Homo sapiens: one gene and its partners. The protein of the gene in region 2 interacts with the protein of the main gene of each other region in a pairwise test. Each region holds a gene or a part of one and is shown on either strand. Other genes may lie near its edges.

The links.
Region 1: the proteins of HPCAL4 (region 2) and SCMH1 interact in binary tests that used the Homo sapiens proteins (3 or more experiments, as listed by UniProt).
Region 3: the proteins of HPCAL4 (region 2) and TRPM5 interact in binary tests that used the Homo sapiens proteins (3 or more experiments, as listed by UniProt).

What each region holds. Positions count from the first base shown.
Region 1 is NC_000001.11:41,046,707-41,050,454, forward strand, and holds part of SCMH1 (polycomb protein SCMH1), read right to left. Parts: intron 2,185-3,748; coding exon 1,984-2,184; intron 1-1,983. UniProt on the Homo sapiens protein: Associates with Polycomb group (PcG) multiprotein complexes; the complex class is required to maintain the transcriptionally repressive state of some genes.
Region 2 is NC_000001.11:39,678,077-39,681,510, forward strand, and holds the end of HPCAL4 (hippocalcin-like protein 4), read right to left. Parts: 3' UTR 572-3,434; downstream 1-571. UniProt on the Homo sapiens protein: May be involved in the calcium-dependent regulation of rhodopsin phosphorylation.
Region 3 is NC_000011.10:2,416,781-2,420,528, forward strand, and holds part of TRPM5 (transient receptor potential cation channel subfamily M member 5), read right to left. Parts: intron 3,626-3,748; coding exon 3,442-3,625; intron 1,812-3,441; coding exon 1,747-1,811; intron 1,579-1,746; coding exon 1,387-1,578; intron 1,050-1,386; coding exon 947-1,049; intron 400-946; exon of another isoform or gene 1-399. UniProt on the Homo sapiens protein: Monovalent cation-selective ion channel activated by intracellular Ca(2+) in a voltage- and temperature-dependent manner. Mediates the transport of Na(+), K(+) and Cs(+) ions equally well.

The DNA of each region.
Region 1 (3,748 bases), 1.4 Mb from region 2:
AGGGAATCAGTGCCCCACGTTTCCTCCCTCCCTCCCTTTAACTCCCTCCCTCGAGGGCTTTGATTTTTGCCTCCAACTGTAAAGGGCTTGCAAATATGGGAGTGGCCAGGCCAGGTCTGTTGCACCCTGGGCTCTGGAATGATTTTATTCAACTTGTGAAAACAACTGTGAACATAATTCTCTCTGCTCCATCACTTGGTTGGACCTCCCCCAGGAAATCTGCTCATTTAGGGTGCTATTTTCACAAGAACTGCCCAAGAACAGAGAAGCTTGGCAGAAGAGTAGAATATAGCCATAGCCAGCAATGGTATGGGTACACAATTTCTGATCTACATAAGGGCACTAGAATTTTGGCAACATTTGGAACTGTTTCATGCTTGGTGTTAGTTTACTTCCTATCATCTTTTTCTATAAAAATGTATCAGTATAAACCTTAAAAAGCAAAGACCTGTGTATTTGTCTCTGAGGGCAGCAAGGACATGGGGATTTGGGGAGATAGGTCATTCTCAAGAACCAGTTTTGAGGCAGGAGAAGAACCCCAGAGAGGGTATAGGAGAGCAGCTAAAGAGAGGCAGTAAAGAAGGCCAGGTTCCTACAGACCATTACACAGAAACAAAGAAGAGACCAGGGAGTAGGCTGGGCCTCAGAAGGGACATAAGGCTTAATTTCCCAGGCACTTCCCAGTCTTTTTTTTTTTTTTTTTTTTTTGAGACGGAGTCTTGCTCTGTCACCCAGGCTGGGGTGCAATGGCACGATCTCAGCTCACTGCAACCTCCGCCTCCCAGGTTCAAGCAATTCTCTTGCCTCAGCCTCCCGAGTATCTGGGACTACAGGCGTGCACCACCATGCCTGGCTAATGTTTTGTATTTTTTTTTAGTAGAGACAGGGTTTTGCCATGTTGGCCAGGCTGGTCTTCAACTCCTGACCTCAGGTGATCCGCCCACCTCAGCCTCCCAAAGTGCTGGGATTACAGGTGTGAGCCACCGCACCTGGCCAATTCCTAGTCTTCTATAAAAATTCCCTGCCTGTCTGCTCCATCCTCCTCACAGCCAAGTACTCCCTAGTCTGGGTTCCCACACCACTCTGTATACATTTCCCTATTACAGCACTTCTCACAGTTAGCTATGTATATTCTTTCTTTTTCACTGGTATGGAGCCTAAGCTGTCATCTTCTATTCTCCCCTTCTCCTGACCAGTGTCTGGCAATCACCTGACACATAGTAAGGGTTCAATAAATGTTTGCTAAAATAATACAGTCTGGTTATTTATGGAGTCTTCCATGCCAGCGGGGTTTCCTGAAGCTGGTTATTACAACCTGCTAGGGAGGAGGGGCAGGGGAATATGGAATAGCATCAGTTAAGACTGAAAGGCTCTAGGTCAAGTCTTCATAGGTTTAGTGGCTAAACAGGATTTTGGATTTAGGAAAACTGAAACAGAATCAGGACACAGGAGAAAAAATGAGTATTCTGTGAGAGCAAAAAACACTGTGTCACTGAATCAAACTCTCATAGCAGTAAAGAAAAAGGAAATGACTTTTCCCAACCACCCTGGGATTTAATTCTCTTCTTCTGGGCCTGGTTTAGGACGAGGAAGCTAAGGAATCAAAGGAATGATAGAGGAGTTCAGTGGTTCCTGAAACCAGGTGGGAGGCTGCAACAGTCTGGAGAAACCCTCCTGCTGCCACAACATAGCCCCCTCTGGATTCTTTCTCCTATACTTTCTGTACGGACAGGTCAATCAGGTAGATGGGGGGAATCAGTTTAGAGGCTCACTGAAGCAGAATCTGTGGGTATTCTCCTTGGCAGAGGTATGCATAAGGCTCAGAGGGGCTCTTGGGGGGTTGGAGATGAGGAATGGAATACCTTCACATTTTTCCAGAGCCTGCAGGTATGAAGTGGGAACCAGGATGCCTTACAAGAAATCAACCAGTTGAGAAGGTGGGTCCTTCTGGCTGGGAGGCAATATGAGCCAAAGTGTGCTTACCTGAGATAACCTCACCACCATGGCCTTGCTTGAGGAAGCTGAAGACGGTTTTCTGGTGATAAGCACAGTCGATACAGGCCTGGACAGCCTGCTGCAACACCACAGAGGCACGGGCTGGTCCAAAATGGTCAGGGAGTTGCTGGACCTTCTTCTTATCTAAGTGGGGGCCTGTGCTGCCATTCTTGTTCAAGTAGATACAAACTATGGGAGACAAAGAATCAAAGAAGCTTCAAGAGTCTCTGGGATAGAGAAGTCAGAGAACAGCATCCTATTCCATCTTTTATACCTTGGCCTCTGGTTCCTAACAGAATTCCTAGCAGCTGAGCTGGTGAAATGCTGTGGGAGGTAGAGGGTGGAGGGTCAAGAAAAGGCTGTGCCCAGCTACTGCCAACCCAAACTGCATGATCAAAGTCTGTGGGAAGACTGGAAGAGTGGCCCAGACCAAAGGCCAAGACACAGAGTTTGCACTTTGTCTTCTGTGCACTGAAAAGAAAATCTAGACAATTCCCCTCTTGTACGTACTTCCATTTTTTTGTACTTGGTTGCCTCACATATTCTTTGTACCTCTTACCATATATGTGTAAGGCACTGTGGGGCAATGGCAATATTAGCAAGGGCATATGTGTGTGTGTGTGTGTGTGTATGTATGTCATTGGATTTAGAATAGTTGCACCATTGATCATTTGCCTTGCTTTCTGTTTTGGGCCTTAGGGTCCCTTTGTTATCTTCTACATCAACACTCATGCCCAAAGAATATAATAAAAATTTTAAAAAAAATTGGATTAAAAAAAAAAAAGTTGGGCTGGGCGTGGTGGCTCACGCCTGTAATCCCAGCACTTTGGGAGGCTGAGGCAGGTGGATCACGAGGTCAGGAGTTCGAGATCAGCCTGGTGAAGAGGTGAAACCCCGTCTCTATTAAAAAAAAAAAATAGCCGGGCATGGTGGTGGGCGCCTGTAATCCCAGCTACTCGGGAGGCTGAGGCAGGAGAATCGCTTGAACCTGGAAGGTGGAGCTTGCAGTGAGCCGAGATTGCGCCACTGCACGCCAGCCTGGGGGACAGAGTGAGAATTGGTCTCAAAAAAAAAAAAAAAAATTGGGTGCAGTGGCTCACATCTGTAATCACAGCACTTTGTGAGGCTGAGGCGGAAGGATCACTTAAAGCCAGGAGTTTGAGACCAGCCTGGGCAATACAGTGAGACCACATCTCTACAGAAAATTTGCTAGGTGTGGTGGCATGTGCCTGTGTTCCCAGCTACTTGGGAGGCTGAGGTGGGAGAACTGCTTGAGCCCAGGAGTTCAAGGCTGCAGTGAGCTGTAATCGCGCCACTGCACTCCAGCCTGGATGACAGAGACTCCGTCTTTAAAAAAAAAAAAAGTGAAAAGAGCTTGAGGGTCCCAAGACGGCTAAGCACTCTCCTAGCTACTGGCCTCCACCTGGCACTGCAGTGGGGAAGGGGTGCAGTGGGCACAGGAGACCGAGGCAGTCCTAACAGAGTTGTCTCTGGAGTTGTTCTCTCCTCAGGACCCACAGCAACCTGGTCAGCAATGACATTTTCTCCTCCATCTGCTTTCCAGCTTCCCATTTGAGTAGCGGGTACTATTCTTTCTTGTGTGGTTGTGGCTCACTAGCTGAAGGGGTAGAAGGGCAAAAGTCTCTTTGCTATTAAAGGTAGAAAAGATAAGAGCAGTAATTGTGTGGCCCGTGGATGGACTGTTGTTCTCCTTGGGTCTCAGGTTCACCACCTGAAAAATGAAGTGACTGAG
Region 2 (3,434 bases):
CCAGTTGCCAGTTCCAGTTCTCTTGAGGTTCAGCCAGTTTTTATTTTATTTTTATTTTTATTTTTTTATTTTTTTTGAGATGGAGTCTTGCTCTGTCACCAGGCTGGAGTGCAGTGGTGCGATCTCGGCTCACTGCAACCTCCGCTGCTCACTGCAACCTCAGCCTCCTGGGTTCAAGCAATTTTCCTGCCTCAGCCTCCCGAATAGCTGGGACTATAGGCGTGCACCACCATGCCCAGCTAATTTTTGTATTATTAGTATGTTGGCCAGGATGGTCTCGATCTCGACCTTGTGATCTGCCCCTTGGCCTCCCAAAGTACTGGGATTACAGGTGTGAGCCTCTGCGCTTGGCCTGAGGTTCAGTCATTCTTGATTTTCCATCTTCAGAGTCCCTTATAATCTGCTCCCCCATTTCTTTGAACTAGCTCAAGTGAGTCTCATGCCATGTTCCCAGAGTCCTTGCTAGAACAAGGACCTTGGCCCTTCACTGAGTGAGCCTCCCCAGGCCTCTTCTGTCCCTTTCTCCCCACCCCAATCCTGTCCCAGTGTAGGGAAGAGCAGGAGCCCTCAGCACAGTTGCACCTTTTATTCACTGTCAGTGGGGAAAGAAACACACCACACAGCACAGGGTTGAGCAGTGAGGGCAGTCACTGAGTGCACAGCCAGAAGCAGCACATCTGGAGGGGATAGGGGGCTACACTGGAACTGGCCTCCTTCCCCTGCTACCCAGACCCCCCACTTCCCCAAGCCTCCTTTCTACTGCTGCTTAGAAGGCCCTGGGCCTGACTGGCCTCCACCAAGCAGGAAGGGCTATACACCCTGGCAGGCCCAGTCCTGCCCCCACACTCTGGCAAAGGTAAAAAGAAAACCTCGAAAATTCCAGAAAGAAAATCCCATATTTTTCTGACTTTTTAATTCCAAGGTTTGAATTATTTCTTTTTTCAAGAATGATGAATAAAACATGTAAGACATTCTTGACCCCACAGTGATCTCTAAAGTCAGCTCAAAGCCTCACCCAGGGTGGATCTTCAGGAAATATTTGTTGCTTCAATACATTTTTGTGTAAAAAATATTTAGTGTCAGCTTACTACCCTGCCTGGAGACCCCAGCTTCTTCTCTTTCTTTTCTTTCCCCCATCCCACGCCATTCCTTCTCTCTCTGCAGCAAGGCAAATTTCTACCTCTAGAGACTCTGCCATTGTCAGGAAAGGATTTAGTGCCTTTACTTATGAACTAACTTTTTCTTCACTTTTGATATACAGGTAAGTTAAATAATCCTGACTACAGCTGAAAGGACTAAAGTGGCCATCTGAAGTAGCCTTTGCTGATAATTTTTAGAGATAAGAAATAAGATGCTCATCAATTAGCCCAAAAGGATGAATGAGGGTAGAGTATGTGAGAAGGCAGATTCTGGGACCTTGCAATTCACAGAGTTGTTGCAATAAGATTGGAATTTAAAGGAGAGTTTGAATATATCAATGTTTTGATTGTCTGTATATTTTTGTGTCTGTGCAAGTCATACATAAATCTCTGCCAGCCTTGTGCTTTGCGGCAAGTCTCTCTCAGCTGGTGCAGGGACGGGAGACCTGTGTCTCTTCTCAAGGCAGGGCCAGTGCTCTACCACAGTGCTCCTGAGCACACAGTCCCTGGGACACCCAGGAGTATGCAGGAGCATGTCCTGGGCCACCTGTTGTTCCTTCCATCAGCAAGATGGTGGTCCCAGTTCCTGGCCTGGCATTGTGTGTTCACACTGCTGGGCTGTCTGAGAATATTGGGCCTGAGGAGCAAAAATCACCCATGGGTATGTGTGTCCAGAAGCCTGGAGTAATCAAACACGCCTTCATGGGTAGGCATGTTTCTCTTAGTGAAGATGATGGTGGGTAAAGACAATGCAGGATGCTTCGAGGGTTCTGAGTCAGAGGACTCCCAGGACAGCACTGAGCTGTTAGCACAGCTGCCAGAGGCAGAACACTGAGTGCTTGAAAATGTGGGGACTTCAACCAAGCTCCTATTTTTTTTGGAAGACCACAATCTCAGAAGCTTTTTAGCAGGAAGCCTATAAAGGATGAATATCAATGTAACTTGCCCTGCTGTCAACCTCTGCACAGCTTAGTCACAGAAATGGACAGGGAAGAGACTCTGAAAAGAAGAAATCCTCTTAGAGCCTTGGTTCAAGTCTTAGCCCTGTGTCACCTCCTGACTATGTGATCTTGCACAAGGGATGCTTCCTCTCTGAATCTCAGCTTCCAAGTCTAGAGAAAAGAAGTGAAAATCCTCACCTCCATGGGATGTGAGTATAGAATGAGATGGGGCACATGGCAAGCCTTTGAAAGCCATGAAATTCTGTGTGGTTGCGAATTAGGCTAGATTCAGCATTTGCAGGGAAGGAACCTCACTTAGTGAAAAGCTTTTCACCAGAAGATTTAGGTCCCAGCTAAGCCAGGCTGGTGAGCATCTATGTGTCTGTGATGCTGACTGACCGCACAAGACATACCTAATAGCCAGTTCCTGGGAGCAATGCAACATCCTTGAGGCATTGCTGGATAAACAACTGCTAGTTCCTGCCTGAGGATGTGAACTCCCCAGCCTCACCATATGGCTGGTCATGAGCAAGAGGATAGCAAAAGGATAGCAACCCAGTGGTTGCAAACCAGTGGTTGCTATCCCCAGCAAGAGGATAGCAACCCAGTGGCCTTGCTACCTCCAAGGGCCCAGTAGAGCTTGGGACCAAGCTCTATTGATCAGCATCCCCCAGAGTTTTCACCTGCAGAGAAGCAGGACAGGTGGGCACTCAGGAGTGAGGAGCATGCTGCATCTCTTTCCTGCAGATGCAATTCCCCTGCCCCGGGCTCAGCAATCATTTCCTGCTCCCACCCTGGGCTGACAGCACCTGTGTACTAGACTGTTTTCACCGGCAGTTCAAGAGGAAATCAACTGTCACTGCACGTCAAAGGTAATTTCTGATCACAAGTACAGGAGAAAGACCTGATGAAGAAGCAAGATTAATTTTTCCGGCAGTCAAAGCATGCAGCTGTATAGCTCATGGATCCAAAATTGGGAAGCAGGCATTGGAAAGCAGAACCAGCACACTTGGAAGATGTTGAACTACCTGGCAGATCTAAGATTTGGGGTTAGAAAAAGCCTCTCAAACAGAGCATGCCTGGCACATTTTTAGGCATTTCGTCCATAAATTATGTCTGGGTGCCTAAACAGTGGCCAGGTGAGCCTTTTCTTCTAGCTCTTTCTGATTCTGTGGCAGTGAAGGAACAAGTCCAGTTCTGAAACTAAACCCAATCCAGAAACGAACTACCAAGATACGGAATATACACTAGTTTCACTCTTTGCAAACCTTGCTTTTTCCTGTCCCTGAAGTCAGCACCCAACCGGAGTAAGTATGTAGCAGAAAGTTGCTTGTTGAATTGAAAAAGGTAATAA
Region 3 (3,748 bases), on a different chromosome or scaffold from region 2:
CAGCCCTTCAGCACGCGTTCGTCTCCAGCAAAAAGCACATCAAATGCTCATCAAAATTTTCCATCAGCGGGTGAACAGACGCATCAACCACGGTCTGTCCACAGGCTGGAACCTGACTCCGCCTTACAAAAGGAATGAAGCATGGAATGGCATACGCTTCAACACGGAGGAACCGTCAAACCCTCCCGCTGCCTGCAGGGAACCATGGACACGAAATGCCCGTCAGCAAATCTATAGAGACAGGAAGCAGATCGATGGTTCCCAGGGGCTGGGGGAAATGGGGAGTGAGTGCCAAGGGGTATGGGCTCTTTCTGGGGCGATGAAGGCTTCTGGAATTAGATAAAAGTGATGGTCGCCCCACCTCACGAATATACTAAAAACCACTGAATTGGCTAGTGCGGTGGCTCACGCCTGTAACCTCAGCACTTTGGGAGGCCGAGGCAGGCGGATCACGAGGTCAGGAGATCGAGACCATCCTGGCTAACACGGTGAAACCCCGTCTCTACTAAAAATACAAAAACAAAATTAGCCGGGCATGGTGGGGTGCACCTGTAATCCCAGCTACTTGGAAGGCTGAGGCAGGAGAATCACTTCAACTCGGGAGGTGGAGCTTGCAGTGAGCCGAGATCGCAGCACTGCACTCCAGCCTGGGCGACAGTGCGAGACTCCGTCTCAAAAAACCGAAAACCAAAACAAACAAAAAACAACCCCCCCACCAAAAAAATACCACTGAATTGAGAGCTTTAAGTATAGTTTTAAGTTGTGGTAAAAAACACGTCATAAAACTTGCCAAATACAGACAGCTTCATGAATCATGTGTCATCTTTCCTGGGAAGGGGCAGGCGGCCGAGCGTCACAAACATTGGCCAGGCTGCCAAACCCCAAAGCGGCTCTGAGCATGAAGCCCCCCAATGGCGCCTGCCTTGCCCACCCTGCCCGCCCTCACCTTTCACCAGCGCCTTCAGGATGACCGTGTCCAGCTCCTCGGAGCCCTCCTGCTCGAAGTCATACACGGTGAGCAGGTGCTGGTGTGAGGTGATGTTCTGCAGCTGGGCACCAGAACAGAGCCCCCATGGGGCCGCCTCAGCCAGGACGGGGGCAGAGGCAGGCCGTGGTAGACACCAGCGTAGGCACAGGCAGCGTCCCCAGGTGAGCCTTGCAGCCTGCATGCCCACCGCCCACCGGGCCCGGCCTGGGACCACCCGCAGACCAAGGGGCTGCCTGGGTCTCTCTGCTCCCTGTGGGCCTGAAGCGAGAGTGGGTGGGGGGCCCAGCAGCCTGAGGTGGGAGGAGTGGGCTGGAGGCTGCATTGCAGGAACTCTCCCAGAGGACCAGCCCCACCCCCGGAGGAGGGGTCGGGAGGACAGGGGAGGGGGCAGCACATACCAGCTTGGTCCAGCGCACGATGTCCTCCCAAGAGAAATGCTTGCTGGGGAACTTCTCCTTAAACTGCTTCTCGGCCACCTTGGGCACCAGGAGGTGGGGCTGGTTCACTAGGGCAGCAAGCACATCGGCGATGCCCCCCGAGCCTACCAGGATCAGCCACGGGGCAGCCTGCTCCACGGCCCTGGAGATCCTCTGAGACGGGGAGGGAGGGGAGAGCGGACCCCAGATTAGCCCGACGACATCTGGATGCAGGTGTCAGGGGTGCCCCCATCCCTTCAGCCCTGTCCCAGGGGTGCCCAGAACCCACCGCACCCCTCCACAAGGCTTCGGCCAGCCAGGGGGCCTCAGCCAGGCCCCTACCTCCAAGGTGTTGGGATCACCATTGACCAGCAAGCAGAGGACAGGGATCTCGATGCTGCCAGTGCCTGTGGACAGGGCACCCGTGAGGCCTGAGGACCCTCCGCCTGGGGTGACCACCCGGATCTCAGGCTCTCAGGCCACCACATTTTCTGGCCAAAAGCTGGCTCTTCCGAATAAAGTGTGGGCTTCGTCTGGGCCACGTGACACAGGCTGCTTATTACAGCCCCTGCCATATGAGGGCCGAGGGCTCCAATGCTAACCTACACTACCCAGCACGCGCACTTTGTGGCAACAGCTGGCATATGGCTGTTAAAACACAAAGTGACGTGGAAGAAACGGAGCACCCAGCCCTACAGGTGCACTGCCACACTGCACGCGCTCATGCTGAGCATGGCAGAGGCAGCATCTCGACCATCGAGGGAGCTCTGCTGGGTGGGCTGCGCCTGACCACTCAGCAAACTGAAGAGGTACAGGAGGGAGTCTTCAGGTTTCTCCCCCAAACAGAAGCTGGAAATGAGATGTCTATATGTGAAGCCCCCAGAGAGGCCTGGACCTGCCCCTGTCTTCTGTGAGGGAGTGAACTGCCTGGAGGTGCCTTAGAATCACCCACAGGGAACTGGGCTCGCAGGCGGGCCCCTGACTTTGAAAGGTGCCTCCTGATTGAATCTGGAGGATAAATCAGGCCTGGCCAAACGGTGCCCGGGCCAGCAGGGCTTCCGCAGAGCAGAGCCAGACCCTCCGCCTGTGTCCCTAGAGTTTGACGAGACTTTGTGTTTTCAATTCTAAAGAGTGCTCAGTTGACCGGGCACAGTGGCTCATGCCTGTAATCCCAGCACTTTGGGAGGCCAAAGCAGGCAGATCACCTGAGATCAGGAGTTCAAGACCAGCCTGGCCAACATGGTGCAACCCCGTCTCTACTGGGAAAAAAAAAAAAAAAAAAAGAGCCGGGCATGGTGGCACATGCCTATAATCCCAGCTACCCGGGAGGCTGAGGCAGGAGAATTGTTGGAACCTGGGAGGTGGAGGCTGCAGTGAGCCGAGATTGCACTCCTGCACTCCAGCCTGGGGGATGGGGGACAGAGTGAGATTCTGCCTCAAAAAAAAAAAAAAAAAACAGAGGGCTCAGTTGGCCTTGCCAAGAAATTACAATTCTGTTTCTAAATATTGTATATTGTTCATAGATGTTATAAATAATTATATGCTTTGTTTATGAATATTATTTACACACTAGCGTTTTCTTAGTAAGTCCAGCTTTTGAACGTGCGACTGGCCAGAGGTGCCCATTTCTCGGGTGACGCTGCCCTCTGGCGGCAGCATACCTCACGCCTGGCGGCGGGAAGTAGCCCTCTTTCAACTCACGATCTCATTTTGCCTCTTAGAGTCCCGGAGCCTCTGACCACGGCAAGGCCCAGTGAAAACAGAACTGCACCTGCTCTGGTGGGAATGTCACTGTCCAGTCAGAGCCACTCTGTCCAGCTGTGCCTCCTTCACCACTCTGCCCAGACAGCTCCTCCTCCCAGGCCCCCACGGCCCAGGCCCCCACGGCCCAGGTCTCGGTGCTCAGGCATGCGGGGTGCGTTCTGCCTGGGAAGCCCTCCCCCTTCTCCCTGGCGGTCACCCCCACTCTCCCACAGGCGGGTCCCTGGATCCCCACTGGGTCCCAAGGCTTCCCTGGGTGGCTGGGGCGGGTCTCACCCCCGTAGCCCGCCCTCTGCTCCGAGATGTGCTTCTCCAGCCTCAGCCGCAGCTCCGTCAGCCCATCGCCCTTCCCCGGGGGGCCTGGCTCCACCAGGATGAAGTGGGAGAGGTTGCTGTCCAGTGAACAGAGGGGGCCCTGGCTGCCGCCGTCATCCTCAGGGTAGTGGACAGGAAAATCCTCCTGCGCCCATGCAGGGAGACGAGGCTGAGCCCTCGAGAGGCAGCTTGGGCTGGTCCCGCTGCGGGATCCTCCCTGCCAGGCCGTGCACACCACGCCATGGGGCCCCGCACAAGGCTTCTGCCC